Linked DNA regions of Homo sapiens: regions 2, 3, 4, 5 and 6 are each reported to be linked to region 1. Evidence: microRNA targets listed by miRTarBase, many of them from high-throughput screens and not tested one by one. Region 1 holds a microRNA gene; each other region holds the end of a gene's coding sequence. Distances are between the middles of the regions.
Evidence for each region. The annotated mature microRNA hsa-miR-5193 reads UCCUCCUCUACCUCAUCCCAGU and lies in region 1 at 1,585-1,606, shown strand. An mRNA with a match to its seed (bases 2 to 7 or 8) in the 3' UTR can be bound and repressed. Matches are read on the target gene's strand: a 7mer-m8 pairs with bases 2 to 8, a 7mer-A1 pairs with bases 2 to 7 and ends in A, and an 8mer does both.

Region 2: miRTarBase lists COL19A1 as a target of hsa-miR-5193. The part of its 3' UTR that is shown has no 7-base or 8-base seed match.
Region 3: miRTarBase lists TASOR as a target of hsa-miR-5193. Seed matches in the 3' UTR shown: 7mer-A1 at 2,503-2,509.
Region 4: miRTarBase lists GTPBP10 as a target of hsa-miR-5193. Seed matches in the 3' UTR shown: 7mer-m8 at 1,144-1,150.
Region 5: miRTarBase lists ASB7 as a target of hsa-miR-5193. Seed matches in the 3' UTR shown: 7mer-A1 at 2,325-2,331 and 7mer-m8 at 2,327-2,333.
Region 6: miRTarBase lists TMEM45B as a target of hsa-miR-5193. The part of its 3' UTR that is shown has no 7-base or 8-base seed match.

The regions. Positions count from the first base shown.
Region 1 is chr3:49,804,646-49,807,770 of GRCh38, reverse strand. It overlaps MIR5193 (microRNA 5193), which reads left to right and starts at 1,526; the gene lies at 1,526-1,634. INKA1 (inka box actin regulator 1) reads right to left here. Exons shown (of 2, transcript NM_203370.2): 2 at 2,741-3,125. The coding sequence ends at 2,784. UBA7 (ubiquitin like modifier activating enzyme 7) reads left to right here. Exons shown (of 24, transcript NM_003335.3): 21 at 1-35; 22 at 1,606-1,698; 23 at 1,774-1,874; 24 at 2,334-2,562. The coding sequence ends at 2,463. RefSeq lists enhancers at 95-264, 1-365, 995-1,274, 1,261-1,555.
Region 2 is chr6:70,206,653-70,209,777 of GRCh38, reverse strand. It overlaps COL19A1 (collagen type XIX alpha 1 chain), which reads right to left. Exons shown (of 51, transcript NM_001858.6): 50 at 2,800-2,877; 51 at 1-2,631. The coding sequence ends at 2,504. Among named protein-coding and RNA genes, the nearest start is that of COL9A1, 95 kb to the left of the region's middle.
Region 3 is chr3:56,620,239-56,623,238 of GRCh38, forward strand. TASOR (transcription activation suppressor) reads right to left here. Exons shown (of 24, transcript NM_001365635.2): 24 at 1-3,000. The coding sequence ends at 2,799. CCDC66 (coiled-coil domain containing 66) reads left to right here. Exons shown (of 18, transcript NM_001141947.3): 18 at 1,294-1,599. The coding sequence ends at 1,380. Among named protein-coding and RNA genes, the nearest start is that of TASOR, 62 kb to the right of the region's middle.
Region 4 is chr7:90,384,679-90,387,803 of GRCh38, forward strand. It overlaps GTPBP10 (GTP binding protein 10), which reads left to right. Exons shown (of 10, transcript NM_033107.4): 10 at 214-3,125. The coding sequence ends at 476. Among named protein-coding and RNA genes, the nearest start is that of CLDN12, 17 kb to the right of the region's middle.
Region 5 is chr15:100,648,122-100,651,246 of GRCh38, forward strand. ASB7 (ankyrin repeat and SOCS box containing 7) reads left to right here. Exons shown (of 6, transcript NM_198243.3): 6 at 202-3,125. The coding sequence ends at 341. Among named protein-coding and RNA genes, the nearest start is that of ASB7, 47 kb to the left of the region's middle.
Region 6 is chr11:129,858,445-129,861,569 of GRCh38, reverse strand. It overlaps TMEM45B (transmembrane protein 45B), which reads right to left. Exons shown (of 6, transcript NM_138788.5): 6 at 1,567-2,996. The coding sequence ends at 2,885. Among named protein-coding and RNA genes, the nearest start is that of NFRKB, 36 kb to the left of the region's middle.

The DNA of each region.
Region 1 (3,125 bases):
TCCGCTATATGCCTTTTGCCCCAGCCATCCAGACGGTGAGCCCATGATACCCCACCCTTAGCCCTACTAGGCCTGGGTTTCCCCTGCACCTGCCCATACAGGCCCCAATCTAGCTGCCGGCTCTCACTGAAACTCAGACTGTGCAGAAGTCCTGAAGACTCCCTCCAGCCCTCTTCCTGCTATGAAGCCAGGCTGGGACCTGTCAGACACAGGAAGCAGCCGTCAGCCATCCCCACCCCCAATCCTCCAAAGCCCAGGATCTGGGGGAGCTGCAGCTTTAACTCATTAGTGGAGCCAGACATCCCCCACAGTCCCCTCCTTCCTTGGAGTACCCCTGAGGGGTAGGTAGTGGGGAGGGGACCAGGGCATCAGCCCCAGAAAGAGTCTAGCTTCCCCCTGCATGGTACGGGGGCCCTGGCCTACCTCCTACAAGCTGAGTTAAAAGGTAATAGGCTTGCCACTAGAGGTGTGGGGTCTGCAGCCCTGAGTGTATTTGTGTCACAGTTGTGAGTGCAACTGGGGTCTGGGCATCCCCGGAGTGTGGGTATGGAAGGAGCAAGTTTGCACATCTGTGCATCAGATGGGAGTGCAGGGCTCCCATCTTCCTGTGTCCTCAATGTGGGCATGCATGGAGATGCATGTGGGCACACATGTGTGTGTTCCTGGGCTTGTGGGCATTTGTGTTCCTGTGACTGCAGCGCTGTGAATGCCTCCAGCCTTGTGCCCAGGCTCTGCAGTTGGCATTTCCTTGGGGCAAGGATGAGGGTAGAAGGAATGCCCTCATGAGGGGAGAGGGCAGAGGTCATGGGCCAGCACTGGGTTTCTGCTGAGCAGCCTGGGGTCCCTCTGGACTAGCACACAGAGCCCCTTTGTGAGGCACCCTGCCTCTAACCAGCATACAGGCTGCCTTTGTCCACAGAGTGAAGCAGGTGAAGGAGAAGCCCCCATCTCACCTCTAGCCTAGTCTCAGCTTGACCCCAGTGTGTTTTCTCAGGGGCTGATAAGCACCCCCTGTCCTGGTCTCTAGATACCTGCCAGCCATCCTTCTGTCCTTAGCTCTAGGTCCCAGAACCCCAAGACTCTTGGAAGGAAGGAAGGGACAGGAGGAGGAAGCCTCTATGCATTGTATCCCTGCTGGGGTCTCTGGGACAGTGGGGCCCTGGTGGTCACTGTGCCCTTTGCCCCTGTGTCCCAATGAGTAGCCCAAGGCACTGGCAGTACATACAAGATTGGGGGACAGGATGTGCCCCCCAGCTCCCAGCCTTGTCTTTGAGGAACAAGCAGCTTTATCAGAGGCTGCAGGGGCCCTGCTCTGGGTTTCCTCAGGAAGCACCACCCCCTCATCCCCCACTCTCACAACTGGCCCATGTGATGGATCGTCTGTTTCCCTGTGCGGGCCCCATAGCCCCATTTCCTGTGCTGGCCCCGGCCTGGACGGGGAGGGGGCTGAGACTCTGGGCCCAGATCCCACCTCCCCCCCACCCCCCACCCCCTGGCTCCTGTTTCCTGCTAGTCCAGCTCTTCCCCTAGGAAAGGCTGCTGGTAACTGGGATGGGGGTTGGGGGGAGGTAAGAAGTCTCTGACTCCTCCTCTACCTCATCCCAGTTCCATCACCTGAAGTGGACCTCTTGGGACCGTCTGAAGGTACCAGCTGGGCAGCCTGAGAGGACCCTGGAGTCGCTGCTGGCTCATCTTCAGGTGTGCCCTGTTGCTACCCCAACCCCCAGGCTCAGCCCAGCCCGGCCCAGCTGGTGTCTGACCTTTCTCCTCTAGGAGCAGCACGGGTTGAGGGTGAGGATCCTGCTGCACGGCTCAGCCCTGCTCTATGCGGCCGGATGGTCACCTGAAAAGCAGGCCCAGCACCTGCCCCTCAGGTGAGCCCACTTGGGGCTTTAGACAGGCCCCACCAGTCCCTGGAGGCTGGGGCTAGGGACCACACTGCCTTTTGTCTTCCCAGCCCCATTCTGGGCCCCTCACACCTTCCCAAGCATTCTTTCCCCAAATGGAGCCAGCAAACAGGCTGGAGGTGGGGTGAGGGCCGAGAGCCTGAGGAGGAGTCTTCAGGAGCTGCCTATTTGGCCAGCCCCATGGGCTCCCCACATGCTGCACAGCCCCCCTTTCACAGCCCACTCCCAAGGGACCCATAGCTTCCTGCCTCCTGCTTGCCTCATCAGCTGCTCCTAAAATAGTTTCAGATGTTTCCTGTCTTGAGCAGCTCCTGCTCCTGGCTTGGGCTCCTGACGGCCTGCCAGCACCCTCTCTAGTCCATGCCAGGCTGCCTTCTGCTTGCCATGGCTCACCTCTCCAATCTCCCCTAAACCCACCCCTACCAGGGTGACAGAACTGGTTCAGCAGCTGACAGGCCAGGCACCTGCTCCTGGGCAGCGGGTGTTGGTGCTAGAGCTGAGCTGTGAGGGTGACGACGAGGACACTGCCTTCCCACCTCTGCACTATGAGCTGTGACAAGGCAGCCACCCTGTCACCTAGCTCAATGGAGCCCCGGATCCCAAGCCCTGCATTGTAAGCCCACAGTAGGCACTCAATAAATGCTTGTTAAAGGAAGGCATTGCAGAGAGGATGGACGATAGAAAACAGTGCACTAATGCACACGGGTGTGACATGGGCATGACAGGGACCTTCACACAGAGAAAAAAAGCTCTTCAGAAGATTTGTCTCCCTGGGCAGTGCCTCACAGGGCTGGGGCTGCCTCTTAGTGCCTCAGGGGTATGGAGCCAGGACAGTCTAGAAAAAAGGCTTTTATTGTCCCAGGCTGGAGGGCAGGGTCAGAGGTAGCTGACATCATTGCAGATGATGGGCTGGCGGCTACGACAGCTCATGAGAGCTGCAAAGCGTGAGACATCCGCAGGCAGTTCAGGTTCTGGGCGAGGTGGGCATGACAGCCGCTTTCCTGCCATAGCTGTCCGCCGAGCCCTGGCCAGCCGGCGCCGAAGCTGCTCAGAGAGGCCAAGCAGGAACTGAGGGGGCCGAGCACGGGCACGGTGCCCACCTCCGTCACCCCCTTCACTCCCTGTCTCAGGCAGCTCCATCCAGTTGTGCACCAAGTCAGCAAAGCAATTGTCCCCTAGTACCAGGGGCTGGCGACTGCGACCCCTGTTCAGTAGGGC
Region 2 (3,125 bases), not on the chromosome of region 1:
GTAGGGTGAGAAAGGCTTGTACCATGTGGATACAGCCTTGTTTCTCTAGTTACGTCAAATTTAGTCATATTTCCCAGTTACAAAAAATGAGTTTGTGTCATTGTGACAAGTCCACTTTGTAATATGCATCACACAATATTATATTTCCCCATCCCATCAAATTACCTGAATAAATCCAAATCCTTGAAATAGGAATTAACCAGTCAAGCCTTAATGGTATTTAGAAAGATTTCTAAATATACAATTCATAAGAAAGAATGCATGACATATTTTGTAGAATAAAAATGAACAGAGTTAATAAAACAAGAAAATGAATTGTCTTTTTATGTCTATGACAAGAACAACTCAAAAACCAAAAAACAAAAAAAGTTGATTACCATCAGCAAAAAAGTCCATGAAAACATTAAAATGATAAAATAAATATTTTTAAATTAGCAAACAGGCAAAAAGATAAACAACCTATTAATATGAAAAAATAATCTTTGAAAACATATAAAATATTTAGCTTTATGACAAATTCAAGTAAATTAATATGAGTGGCAGATAAGTTGTAAGCGTTTAGAAAATTCAACAAATTAAAAGCTCAAGATATACACATAGCACCAAATTTTAGATCTATGTACACTTTTTCGGGATAAATTACCATTTTACTAAGAAAACACATACGTATGTCCCAATTGTGTAAGTTTAAAACACAGCACCATTGTAGGTATTGCACAAGAAAGAAAACGAAAAAAAAAAAATCAATGTCAAAATGCTTACAATAAATAAAATAACCTTGGAAAATAAATAAACTTGGAATTGAAATATACAGCATAATTCAATATGAAATACCTAAAATGTTATAGGTATGCACAGCCATTGTAGACAGTACCTGACCAGCAGTTCATTAATCTATAATGAAAACCGGTTCAAATCACGGATGCATTGGAACAAACCCTGCCTTAAATTAGGCACATTCCTCAGACACAACTCTGTTCACAGCTTTTTCCAATGTCAGTGGGCTAGCCTTTCTAAACTCATTTTTCAGTAAACAGACAAAAGCAATCATCCTGTTTTAGCCAAATTGAAATCTGCACTGCTCCTTGAAGAGCTGTGAGTCCTGATTGCTGTGGCTGGCAGGCTCTTGCAGCATGTTCTCACATCTGTGGGACCCACCATCTAGATTTCTGCAACATCCTCATGCCCAGTGTTCTAGAGAATCAGTGCCTGCCAATCAACAGTTCCTCAATGAATGTACAGCTAACCAACAGAAAGACTGTTTAGGCATTTGATGATCACTGTATTTTTGTTTCTTTTCAGAGGACATGGTTTTAGAGTGGGTGTGAACTCTTTGGTCTGAGCACTAGTTGCATATCCAGTCCTGTGGTTTTCCTTTGTTGAGCTGTACCTCTTGCTGCAGCTTCTGGAGAAATACAATTCTCCTTAAGAGCTTTTGGGCTTCACCTTCTTAACATGCATTTGCTGACACTACACATTCATCTTCTAGGACAAGTGAGTCCATTCTATACGTATCCCATCCTTTGTTTTGATGGTGGCTTCTTGTCTTAAAGTCTGAGGGTGATGAGGTCATAAGGATAATGGATACAAGGGCCCAAAGATCTTGCTAGGCCACTGAAGCTTTAAGAGTACCAAAGACAGCTTGGTGGCTTCACCACCAAGCACCTTGTAGGGAAAACAGCTTTCTGTTTACCAAATGAGAGACTGAGTGAGGGGACCACAGAATATTAGGCTTTTTTTGCAGAACTCATACAAAACTGGAATTTGATACTCCCTTTTCATGCAGTACTTATTCATGCCAGTGGTGATTGCTTTGAATTGAGCTCATTATACAGAATTAACAAAATCATTTCAGTAGTTGGCTATGCTGGGTGTTTGGGCTCCCTGATAAAACAGTTTCCTGCATTTTTTTTTTGAAAACATAAATTGTAAAATGAAGTTCTTATTGCCTATTTTTCTGCATAAGTAGGATAGATGTAGATGGTATAAAAATTCTTAAGTTATAAAAAGTAGTCAAAAAACATTCAACAGGAGCAATGCACTATATCAAAAAAGTTGACGAGATGTTTAGCAATGATAGTAAATTTAAACACCAAGGAAAAGATAAGTCTGAAACTTTAAAATTCAGAAATCAAAGGCCAACCACATGTTGATGAGTCTACAAAATGGATATCATCATCAGTCTACTAAGTCACAAGATGCAATTTCCTTTTGAAGAAGAACTAACGATAAGATTTACTTGCATATTTCATATAAAACTCTGAGTAAAAATCATAGCAATTGTAAAGCAAAACATATGGAATGAATTTGGGAAAAATCAAAAAATGCTGATTTGCAATTGCTATAGGAATAGGATTCAAACGGTTGCTTTTAATGCCTGGCTTACTCCCAAAAAAAAAAAAAAAAAAAAAAAGCAACCCACAGATGATGAGGGTTTGACGGTATTAAGAGAGCTCCAGTGGCAAGGAAATGTTACCAGGAACCAAGTCTTCTTCAGGTGTGTTCAATTCCCACCTGTGCGCTGATGGGCATGAGACACAGGATAGAGGCAATCTTCTGGGTTACATCTTCCACTGGGTCCTGGGGGGCCCTGTGGGCCTGGGGCACCTGGTGAGCCTGGCAAACCCAGAGCTAACGACATAAAAAAAAAATTACAATGCAGATCACATATGGCCCTTCCTCTCTCCCACCCTCTAGCCAACATGGATCACTCGACTTGACATATAAGGACCCTAGGGGAGAAGCATGGTTCTAATTTGTAAAGGCTTGCTTGTGTTGTGAAGACAATATCCCACTTACCTGAAGTCCCAGGAAGACCTGGACTCCCTGGCAGCCCAATTCCAGGTTCACCTCTTTCTCCCTTCTGTCCTCTGTAGCCTAAGTGAGAAATATATAAAAAAGAGACACACAAAAAGGGTTCTATGGCAACACAGCACAGAGAAGAACCATTTTCTGAGTCTGTGATAATTATGTGATACATTTGCTTAAAATAAATAGTATATTAGCTAACTGTTTTGCATTAACCACATATTAAACTTACATATCAAACAGATTGGGTATAATAGGGCAATGAGGATCTTAAAAAACATGCAATTACTATAAAAAGTTCCAACTAGTCAAACTTT
Region 3 (3,000 bases), 6.8 Mb from region 1:
CAATGTGGCCCACGCTTTTTAAAAAATTGACGTGTTGGCAGTGTTTGTTAGAACATTGACGTACATCCCAAATAGTAATAAATTCAGTATGAAATTATACGCATAACCTTACTCACCATACTACTTTTTCTCCCAAACTATTGTGACTTCTTTTTGCTCTCTGATTAAAACAAACAGGTAACATCCTTACACCTTTGCTCCATCCCTTGGGCTTTAAAAAGAATGGCTGTAGTTAGTTTTGATTCACTATATACTCTCTGTACTTGAGGAAGAGTAAGCTGTGTTTAAAAGTGCCCTTTTCCATGTCGTCATGTACCAATACCCTCTGCATTTCAAAATGTTGACTCAGATGTTTTTCCCTCTACAGAACTAGAAAATTGTCCCCCCACTTTGGTCTATTTACTCATTTGAAGACAAACAGGGTTACTAAGAGTTTTACATAAGTTATTTCTTTAGAGTGACGAAGTGTTAGTTTACTTCTTGCTTAGTGGAGACAAAAATTGTGAGATAAAGAGGAAGGAATAGGATGTACACATTTACCCATCAATATAGCACCCAGTGTTATTTCAGCAGGACCCTTCTGTTAGCATCTAAGGTAAGGTTAGGACAGTCAAGATAAAATACTGGATGTTGGCCAGGAGCAGTGGCTCAAGCCTGTAATCCCAGCACTTTGGGAGGCTGAGGCAGGCAGATCATGAGGTCAGGAGATCAAGACCATCCTGGCTAACACAGTGAAACCCTGTCTCTACTAAAAATACAAAAAGTTAGTTAGTTAGTTAGCCAGGCGTGGTGGTGGGTGCCTGTAGTCCCAGCCATTCGGGAGGTTGAGGCAGGAGAATGGTGTGAACCTGGGAGGCAGAGCTTGCAGTGAGATTGCACCACTGTACTCCAGCTTGGGCGACAGAGCGAGACTCCATCTCCAAAAAAAAACAAAACAACAACAACAAAAAAAAAACACTGTATGTTAAGGGAGACTCCTTCAGTATCTAAGAGCACTTGGGGGTGGACTGGGGGAGAAGGGATGACTTCATTTACCCCCATAGTTATGGAGTCTTGAGTTCTAAGAAAATTTTCATCCCTATTGATTTTTATGCTAAAAACAGAATCTTACAAATGTGATAGCTATATATCCAAATGAGGTGGTCTAGTACAAGCATTTCTGAAAAAATTTTTGAATGACAAAATTTTATCCTAAGCGATATGTTTTCCAAGTGAATATAATTCTAGTTTAACACAACATTGCAAGTCAGGTGTGCACATTTTACTAACAAACATATATCAATGTGATTTCAGGGCCTTCTCCAGAAGCAAAAGGAGTTGGAAAGTAGTCTCCTGCCTTTAGCTGAAAATCAAGAAGAGAGTTTTGGTTCTTCATTTTAAATGTAGAAAATCAAATCCTTCACATTTGATTTGTGTCTTCCAAATTATAAAATGTGCTCACTGGCTCAACTGTATTTTTCAAATAGCCTAGATTTACTTATTTTTTTAAATGCTCATTAAAAACTTGTATACTATGTAGTAAAATGCTGTACTTGTTCTATACAATAAAACAGATACTTCTTTTGTAAAAGCTTAGTAGTAAAAAAAAAAAAAAAAAAACCGGTTCTTCTGCTCTGTCACCACCTGGGTATTGAAGCCCTATAAAAACACTTTCTACTTACCTTAATATAGTCTGGCGTTGCTGGGACCTCACAGTGTTCTTTCACACTTTTTATGTAACTTAGGAACTGAAATACCACTCATGCATTTGTTCTAAAGTGCCAAAGTTCTGTCTAACTTATTAACACGTCTAGACCCATAACTCCATAACTTTTACTGAAATAACACAAATTCAGTTTAGGCTCCTTCTCTAAATCCTGACATTTATTTGCACTATGACATTTATTTGTAGAAATTGCAATTTTCAAAAACATTTTTAAAAGTTAGCATTAGTAACAAGTTAGTAATTAGTATTAGAGGCAGTAGTTAGGAATAGATACGGGTTTGAAAGCTATCTCCACTGTATCTGTCTAGTATAGCATTAATGTGTTCAACAAATGGTAATTACTACTAAGACCACCTCAAAAATATATTCCCATTATACTTCCATTTTGCTAAAACTAATTTAAAAATCAAATTGTTCAACGCCTTTGATAAACAGAAGCCTATCTTTTGAAATAAAAAATTTAATTTCATTAAATCAAGGATTGCGCAGGTACTGAAAATTATCCAATACTCTCAAAAAGTTACCAGAATTTTAGCAATAGGCAGTTTTTACATGACTAAGCCTAGAGATAAAAAATGTGTCCTATGTACATAGTTTATTATCTAAATGAAACTGCACTGTTAGATAAATCTTGAGGTATCGAGCCAAAATCCTGTAAATATTAACACTGCTATTACTGACTTATACCTGTGTAAACACAGTATACAAAAGCCTACATCAAAATAATTCACTTCAACAAAAGTACTTTATATCAGGTGACATTAGAGAAAAAGAAGTAAAGCCTTTGCTGTTTACCGTCCTCCTGCAAGCATCTGATTTTACACATAAAACAGGCTTCAATTTGAAGCCTAAGTACAGGTAACATACAAAAAGTAAAACTTAGAAGTGCCAACATGAGATAATTCAAGTACAATATATGTTAAAAATATATATTTATTTCAATTTTTAGATGCTTCAACTGTTACAGGCCATCATGATTTAAATAAAAGAAAAAACATTTGAGAAAGAACAAGAACCTTTTGTTTAGAGAATGAAATATAAATTGTTAATAAACAAAGTCCACAACAATCTCTTAAAAAAAAAGTTACTACAGTTATTTCTCTTGTGAATATGGCCTGGAAGAATCACTTTTCCCCCAACTTAAGGGAGGTGGAGATTTATCTCTATCCAAGCTTTCAGTATAAGCAGATAAGAAGTAATTCTCATTTTCTTGAGACTGACTTGATGAAAGGGCATATGGTGTCCCCAAAAATGTCTGATGAGTGAGAACATTAAAATGACTAAACTGATGGGAC
Region 4 (3,125 bases), not on the chromosome of region 1:
AAATATATTTATCTAACAAGTATGTTATGTGCCAAGAACCTTACCATAATCAATGGTAAAATCCAAAGGCTCTGAGAACTTATTAGAAAAGGTGAAAAAAGGCATGAAAAATGCTGGTGTTGGTTCCCTGCTTCACAAATCAAACCATTAACATGGTTTTAACTAACTTTCGAAAACAATGGAAATCAGCTTTGTTTGTGCTCTTTCTTTTAGATTTTCTGCATTTATTTGAAAAAAACATGATTCCAGAGAGGACTGTAGAGTTCCAACATATCATCCCCATATCTGCAGTTACTGGAGAAGGAATCGAAGAATTAAAGAATTGTATAAGAAAGTCACTGGATGAACAGGCCAACCAGGAAAATGATGCACTTCATAAGAAACAGTTGCTTAATTTGTGGATTTCTGATACAATGTCTTCTACTGAGCCACCATCAAAGCATGCTGTTACTACTTCCAAAATGGATATAATTTAAATATATTAAAAATGGTATTGATGGAACAGTATTTAATGCTTAAAAACAAGGAAATCCTTTCATCTGTGACAACCTGGAGGACATGTTAAGTAAAATAAGCCAGGCTTAGAAAGACAAATGCTGCATAATCTCACTGTGGAATCTTAAGTTGAACTCATAGAAGGAGAGAATAGAATGGTGGTTATCAAGGGCTGGTGGGGCAGTGGAGGATTGAGGAGATATTGGTCAAAATTTACAAAATTTCAGTTAGACAAGGCAACTGAGTTCAAGAGATCTGTTGTACAGCTTGGTGACTGTAATTAACAACAATGTATTTTGAAAGTCACTGAGTAAATTTTAAGTGGTTTTTCCAAAAAAGCACATAAGGTAATGCACGTTAATTAGCTATATTGAGCCATTCCACAATGTATAGATATTTCAAAACATGTTACACATGATAAATCCAGTTTTTCTACGTCATTTTTTAAAATTATATTTAATTTTTTTATTTTGAAAGTTTTTTCACAGATCTTTTTTTTAGTATTATTACCTTCTGATATATGTGTCATTATTGAAGAACCATACCTTTTAAAGTTATTATTTTGTAATTAAGTATGTCAACAGTAAAAAATAACCAGTGGCCAGGCATGGTGGCTCATGCCTGTAATCCCAGCACTTTTCGGAGGCCGAGGAGGGCAGATCACTTGAGGTCAGGAGTTCAAGACCAGCCTGGCCAACATGGCGAAACCCCGTCTCTACTAAAAATATAAAAAATTAGCCAGGCATAGTGGCGCATGCCTGTTGTAGCCCCAGCTACTCAAGAGGCTGAGGCAGGAGAATTGCTTGAACGCGGGAGGTGGAGGATACAATGAACCCGAGGTCGCGCCACTGCACTTCAGCCTGGGTGACAGAGCTAGACTCCATCTCAAAAAAAAAAAAGAGCTAAAAAATTACATTTTACAAGTTTATGGCCAGCCCACCTGTAATAACATTCTCTGATATTCCTTTACTTAGGATGTCCCTATTGAGATCATTTTTTAAATTTATGTGGAAGGATTCTCTAGATTATTATTAGAATGAGCAATTCAGTTTTGTTTGTTTTTGAGCCTGTCTTGTACCTGGTTGCACTAAATATATAATAGTTATCTTTTGTGGAGACCTTAAAACCCTAAATTTGAATACATGTTCAATGATAGTAAAGATATGACAGAAACTAGAAGATAGCTGTTTATGATTTGAGCTTTTGGAAAATTTTCGTTTCTTGAATGTAATAGTATTTTTTCCTGAATTGGAGGAGACTGATCTATATTGTTTCATTTTTCTTTTGTCCTAGTCTATTTCACTTTCTTTTGTCATAATCTATTTAATTTCCCACTTTCTTATTTTAGTAAAGAGAGAATAAATAGCAAGTGCAGGCCAGGCATGGTGGTGCAGGCCAGACATAGCGGTACATGCCTGTAATCCTAGCACTTTGGGATGCCAAGGCGGGAGGATTGCTTGAGCCCAGGAGTTCATGCCTGAGCAACATAGCAAGACCCTGGCTCTCTATAAAACAGAAAACGCAAACTTTAATATTATCAACAATCAATATATTATAAGAGATTGCAATTTCTAAGTTTCTACCTGAGTGTTTCACAAATACAAACTGGACATTTTCCCTTTAAATGAGTTTTATTATAAAATGTACATATTGATTGTAAAAACAAAAAATTCAAATAGTACAAAAGCATATAAGTAACTAATAAAAGCTCCCTTTCTGCATTAGGCCCCTCAGTTCTTCCCAGGGAAAATGATTAATAGTTTACATTCTTGCAGAAATTTTTTATGTATAAATTTTTACCCAAATGAATTCATTATATAAATTTTTTCCAACTTAGTGTTTTTTTACATAATAGTAGCAAGTTAAAAAATTGTACTTCAGGCCAGGCACGGTGGGTCACGCCTGTTAATCTCAGCACTTTGGGAGGCTGAGGCAGGAAGACCACTTGAGGTCAGGAGTTCAAGACCAGCCTGGCCAACATGGTGAAAACCCATCTCTACTAAAATACAAAAATCAGCTGGGCATGGTGGCGCATGTCTGTAATCCCAGCTACTCGGGAGGCTGAGGCAGGAGAATCGCTTGAACCCGGGAGGCGGAGGTTGCAGTGAGCTGAGATTGCGCCATTGCACTCCAGCCTGGAGGACAAGAGGGAGACTTCCTCTCAAAAAACAAAATATTGTACTTCAAAAAATTATTCTTCAATGCTATTTTTAAATTACTAGAAATTATTTTGGAATTTAATGTTGCATACAGCCTGAGATATGGCTGTTCACCCTTTGGTAAAGTATTAAAGAAAAATAATGCATTGTTCTCAGCTTAAATTTTTTTCTGATTTGACAACATGAGTGATGTTTTCCCAGTATTATTTCAATTATATTTGTTTTATTTTCTGTTCCTCACTCCTACCTCTCATTCCAGTCCCCAAACTGGCTTTTCTTTTATTTCTTTTTTCTTCATTGCTGATGTATTTATTGAGCAATGTCCTGTATCAGGCACTGTCCAAGGTGCTGTATGTGCCATGTTGAAGAGAACAGACAGGACCTACTGTCCTTGTATATCTTGCCTTTGATAACAGAAACTGCAGGGGATTGGAATAGCCTCTTTACAAGAAAAGAATAAGAGTGAGGAAA
Region 5 (3,125 bases), not on the chromosome of region 1:
ATCCACCATCCCACGGTTGTGAAAAGGATCAAATAAGGCATCGCATGAAGGTCCTAGGACACTTTGAGTTGGTATCTTTCCGGTCCTTTGCATGTCAAGTCCATAGAGAGAACTTCCAGGGAAATGAACAGTTCTTTTCAAAAGTGCCTTAAATATTGTGCTTTGTGGCTTTGTAACATTTTCTTTTTTCTGTCTTTTTAGGACAGCCCAGAAACTTGCAGGACCTGTGCCGAATTAAAATTCGACAATGTATAGGCCTTCAAAACCTAAAGCTACTTGATGAACTACCAATTGCCAAGGTCATGAAAGACTACTTAAAACACAAATTTGATGATATCTGATATGCCAGAACTGTGAGCAAGATTAGGAGTTCTATTCTAGATACTTAAAAGGCTTTTTGCCTTGCACAAAGTATATCCTATGCAATTTCTGATTTGCTGTGAAATCAGAAAGCAGGTATACACTTTTGGGTTTTCTGTTTGTTTGGTTGGTTTTCATTGTAGGGGAGGGATTTTTTATATATATATAAAAACACACACCACATGCTTGAAGGTCTTAATTTGGTTTCTTGGTCCAAGTTTAAGAGGTCCAAGCTTTGTATACAATACTGCATTTAGAAAAATTGTCTTTTCTTAAATGACACAAGCAGGTTTAGAGTGGAGAATTTACCCTTTCCAAATTTATGGTTCCTTGGTAAGCACGGTATTCTAAACCAGCAGAGCACTTGTTAACGTTTGGAGGCACAGTTTCACCCAGGGCGACCCTGGGTTCTTTTGGAAAATGCCCTAAGAAATGTTTGAAGTAACGCTGTCACCTCATTCATTTTTAATGAGTACAAACTGGCCGTTTCAAACTGTTCTTTTTCCTAATTAATGTAGCTTTCGGATGACATAAATCCAGTATCTCTGCTTATGACATAAATCCAGTACCTCTGCTTTTCTTTTGCTGTGCTCTTGTTTTTAACTTATTTTTTTTTTAACAACTGTAGTACACTACCCTGAGACACTGCATCTCGATTTCTATCTCTAGTTAGAGTTGTACTTTTAAAAAAATTAACGGGAAAGAAAATAACTTTGTGAAGCCAGTGTATTCTGTTTTTAAAACTGTGCCTGCAGTGCAATACTCCTTCTGGTGTATTTTATCCATTATTTCACTTGCTGGTCGTCATTTCACAGCCAGCTTTGACATGCCCGTGAGGACAGGAGCCGCCGCTTCAGTTGTCACTGCAGAGCCATCGTATGTCAGTTGCAATTTCCATCTGAAGCTATGTCTTTGACTTCACTTTAAGCAGAAAATTTTGTACCCTGGTGGTCGAGTCTTCCCTTAAAAATTGTTAAATCATTTGGCTTTAATGGTTCAATAATTTGGGGTGGCTTCATGGTGTTTCTTTTCTTCCCAGTTTAAAAAAAAAACTTTTTAAGCGTAAAATCTTTAAGGGGTACACATTTATAAGTCTGGCTAATTTCTAATATGCTAATTAAACATTTCCCATTTTAAGGTTATATACAGTGAGGCTCTTCAGGACAATTATTTTCTGGGTTGATTGGGCATATGTTTGCCGTGTAAACACGGATATGATAAAGTGTCAGTAACAATGGAAAAGGTCCCAGAGGCATTAGGCATCTAAGAGGATGCCCTCAGAAACGTATTCTGGCTTGATTTGTGTTATTAACTTCAGAAGAACCTTTTCAAATGTCCCAGTATCGTTCTTAGTGCTTTGGGAAAAAATATTTAACACACTGTTAATAAATTTGTTATCAGAAGTTTACAAGACGAAGGGCTTCTCTCGTCTGAATTTCTAGATTTAAGTCATGAAGTGTAAAACTGTTTCACCCAGAAGTGTAACTAAGCAGAACTAGGAGTTTTCTCTGGCTTCACCTTTTTCAGAGCCAGCAGTGCTGTTTTCTCAAGCACAGCGTTTGCTCTTAGACTCTGATCTGCTTGTGCCTAAGCATTGCACAGGTTTCCGAAGACGGGCAGCTTCAGAGAAGAGGATTATTCGGGAGATTGCTGGTGTGGCCCATAGACTCTTTGGCATAGACTCTTTCGCAGGCAGCCACTCTGAGTGTGGCCAGTTCTATAACCATCCCCAAACTAGCTGGAGCCTGATGGATAGGAACGGGTAGTCTGTCCTCTTCCCCATAAAAATGTTCCAAAAAGTTATCTCCAGAGAGAGTCCCTTATGAAGACAGTTGCCAAGCTGTATTCTCATTCTTTAAACCAATACCCAGGTCAGGGCTAGTTCACACTAGCACTGTTAGGGACATGGTGTGGCTAGAAATGAATTGAGTGTGACTTCTCCCTACAACCCCAGGCCCAGGGATAGGAGGAGGCAGAGGGGTGCCTGGAGTTTCTGCACTCTCATCAGTGATGTTCATGTTACACTTGCACAAGGGCTGATTTCCACGTATGTGTGTGTTAATTTATTCACTTAGTTTCAAAAGATTTTCTCTCCCCAGCCATTCAGAGGTTTCCAAACTAAGCCACTGAGTTTGAGTCAGGGAATTCCACGTAAAAAGATCAGATTAAGGTAAATTCTTTGTTCTGTATTGCTGCTGTGACTTCAGAAAAAAAAAATTATGAGAGCTCTTCCTGGAATTTTGAAATTTCTATTTAATGAAGAAGTGTATAATTCCATTATTTATTGTTTGAGGTTTGATTTATCTGGAAGCTTAAAAAGAATGTTTTATTTTTGTTGTTAATAAAATCCCAATCACATTTCACAATAACTAAAATGTCTCCAGGTGGGTTACTGGTAGATGATAGTGGTGACACCTGCAGGTCTGCATTTGAATTGGATTCACAGAGAAGCATTCCATGGTCACATAATGAATAGGGAGAACAGATATTTTCAGAAAAATCAACCGATTGTTTTTTCCAGAAACAGAACAGAAAATGTTCAGAATATTTTCAAATTTGTCAGATTCTTTTATGTTTCCTTTGAAATTTATTATTTAAGCCTATTACTAAACCTTTATAAAAATATATTTGGCAAATACACCAAAGAAACCAGCTTACAAAAGATTATGATCATTAATGAACTGCAAACCTCATCTTTCGAAAACAAGGTTTTGTGTTTTTTTTTTTTTGTAAATATTTGTGTTTATAAATGTACAGCAGAGTAA
Region 6 (3,125 bases), not on the chromosome of region 1:
GCCTCAGCCTCCTGAGTAGTTGGGATCAATCACAGGCACGTGCCACCACGCCCTGCTAATTTTTGTATTTTTGGTAGAAATGGGGTTTCACCATTTTGGCTAGGCTGGTCTCCAACTTGTCACCTCAGGTGATCTGTCTGCCTCAGCCTCCCAAAGTGCTGGGATTACAGGCGTGAGCCACTGCACCCAGCCATGGTGGGTGTTTTGTAGGGAACAATTTCAAAAGGACTTCTGGTGGCAACCATTGAGCCTCTGGTTGACAGATATGGGTAAAATTATTCAGAAAACATATCTAAGACAGGATGTGGAGAATAGTACTGTCATCAGTTTATACTTTAATACCACATCTAACAATGTTTATGATAGGGTTGATCACTTCCATGAAGGCATCACAAGCCTTGCTGTGTGAAGGGCATCTGAATACATTTTAATATTTTATATCTGTTCTTCACACCTTAGCCCCTCACTCTGGAGAAAATAGTACATTTTCTTTCTTAAAATATGGTACACTTAAAGAAACCTCAAATGTGGATCTTTTCTTTGAAAGTAAAACTGAACAGGTCCTTCTGCCCACCTGCAGTCCCCAAGGAAAGAACACATGTTACGTTCATTGCCAATAATAGGTCCTTCAGTACTTGTTGAATGAAGAATACTTGTGTTTTTCCACTGGCCAACCAAGGTGGATCCTGAAAGTGGAACCCGGAGTTCTCTAATAACTAAATTAGTGTTTTTAGTAGCTCATTTTGAATCCCTAAGCTGTGACTTCAACTCTGAAAGGCTGGCTAACTCTGGGAGGTTACCTTCACTTAATTAAGTACAGCATTTCTTCCAAAGCGCATGCAGTGCTTTATGTAAATTCTCTCTCCTGGATTTGTGTGACGTAGCAGGGTTAGAATGGTGAGACAGATGCCTGGTTTTGGAGTCATAAGACTGGCTTTGCCACCTAGCATCTGTGTGGTCTTAGGCCAGCCAACTTTTCTTTTTTTTTGAGATGGAGTCTCACTCTGTTGCCAGATTGGAGTGCAGTGGCATAATCTCGGCTCACTGTGCAACCTCCGCCTACTGGGTTCAAGTGATTCTCCTGCCTCAGCCTCCCAAGTAGCTGGGACTACAGGTGCTCACCACCACACCAAGCTAATTTTTATATTTTTAGTAGAGACAGGGTTTCACCATGTTGGCCAGGATGGTCTCGATCTCTTGACCTCATGATCCACCCGCCTCGGCCTCCAAAAGTGCTGGGATTACAGGCGTGAGCCACCGCGCCCTGCTAGGCCAGCCAGCTTTTCTGAAAGACCTCATGCTCTTACACATTACAAGCGGTTGTGAGAATCAAATGAGATAGGGTGCATCTCAGAATCTGAAAAATACTATGCACACGGAAAGTATTATTTGGTCTCTAAGGCCCATCAACTTGGTCCTAACTCACTTTTATCAGTTTGTAGAACTTAATCTTTTTAAGTTCTCCGTATTTTTTTATGCTTTCATTTTTTAATGTGCTACCCTCTCTACCTGGGATGTGCTTTTTCTACAGGGCAAGCTCTGCATTTCCCCTCCTCTCCTTTTTCTCATCGTGGTTTGTACTTGCCTCTCAGCACCCATCACACTGGATGTAACTACAGGCATGTCTCTCCTGTTTGACTGTAAACTCCTTGCTGGACACATATCTCAGGAGTCCTTACAGCCATTTCAGTGCTGTTGCAAAGTGGATATTTAATAAATATTTGTTGAAGGAAGTCTGTTTGCTTGTTTTTGAGACAGAGTCTTGCTCTGTCACCTAGGCTGGAGTACAGTGGCATGATCTGGGCTCACTGCAAGCTCCCCTACCGGGTTCATGCCATTCTCTTGCCTCAGCCTCCCGAGTAGCTGGAACTACAGGCGCCCGCCACCACACCCGGCTAATTTTTTGTATTTTCAGTAGAGACGGGGTTTCACCATGTTAGCCAGGATGGTCTTGATCTCCTGACCCCGTGATCTGCCTGCCTCGGCCTCCCAAAGTGCTAGGATTATAGGCGCGGTGAAGGAAGTTTTTTTAAAAAAAGAACAGATCCAGAAGCAAGATTAGGGTATCAAGATTTTACATTACTAATTCTGAATTCGTTATCCTTTGCTTTCAGCCATATTAAAACTGAAAGCCTTCCATACCTGACGTTTTTCTATCTCATTATACAGCTTTCCTGTCAGATCTTCTTTTAGGGTGACTTTGAAGAATCAGAACATCAGGGCTCCAACTCTCAGTAGAGCCAGTAACCAGCTTCCTGATTTAAAAAAAAATCACCTTTGGCCTAATTTTGTCACTTATAAACAGTGGTATTGCAGTACCCTGGTATGATTAGTTATGATATGTTTAACAATAATTTTAAAATACCAAAGCTTGTGAATTATTTTACTTTCAAAAAATATGTAAGTTAGAATTGTAATTCTAAAGGCACTGTCGTTTGCTTACACATTCTAACATATTTCTAATAAGAAAGTACCTGCTTTCTTAAGAGAAAAAGGGATAAGTTACCAAAAGCAGCACGTTCTCCTGGGCTCATACCCCGGATTCATCCATGAGGCCACTTCCATTGTAAAGCTTTTAGCATCTCTTGATTTCTCTTGACACTGAGGCACAAAGGCCTGCTACTTATAGGCATTACTTCATTTTTCCTTATGAAGGGTACTATACCAACACAGACTTTATAGTATGTTTAAAAATCCCAACTGCAAGATACACAGGATGCTGTAGGCCTGATTTCCTGTTGTAGAACCTCCAGCCCTGTGTTGAATGAGGAGGTGCAAATATATAGACCCTTAAGATCAGACCACAGCAGGCATTCAGGTGGAGGGGATGAACTCCATTCATTCCAGCTGTGCAGTGGGACATCTGCGCCCTCCGCATCTCGGCTCATTCCTCATCTGAGCCACTCAAGAGGGCGGTCTGGTAAGTGTCATCTGAATTCAGCTTCTGAATTCCAATGATTTCTCCCCTTCCGTGTCTCTTCATCCGAGTCAAAAGGCTTTAATAGAGAAAGAGTAAGAGCCAATTAGCCAGAGATTCCCTTAATCCATTACCAAGGATGTGAAGGCATCTACTGATTCTTAAACTATTTTCTTTATATTTCTATCAAATACTGTGATTACATGTC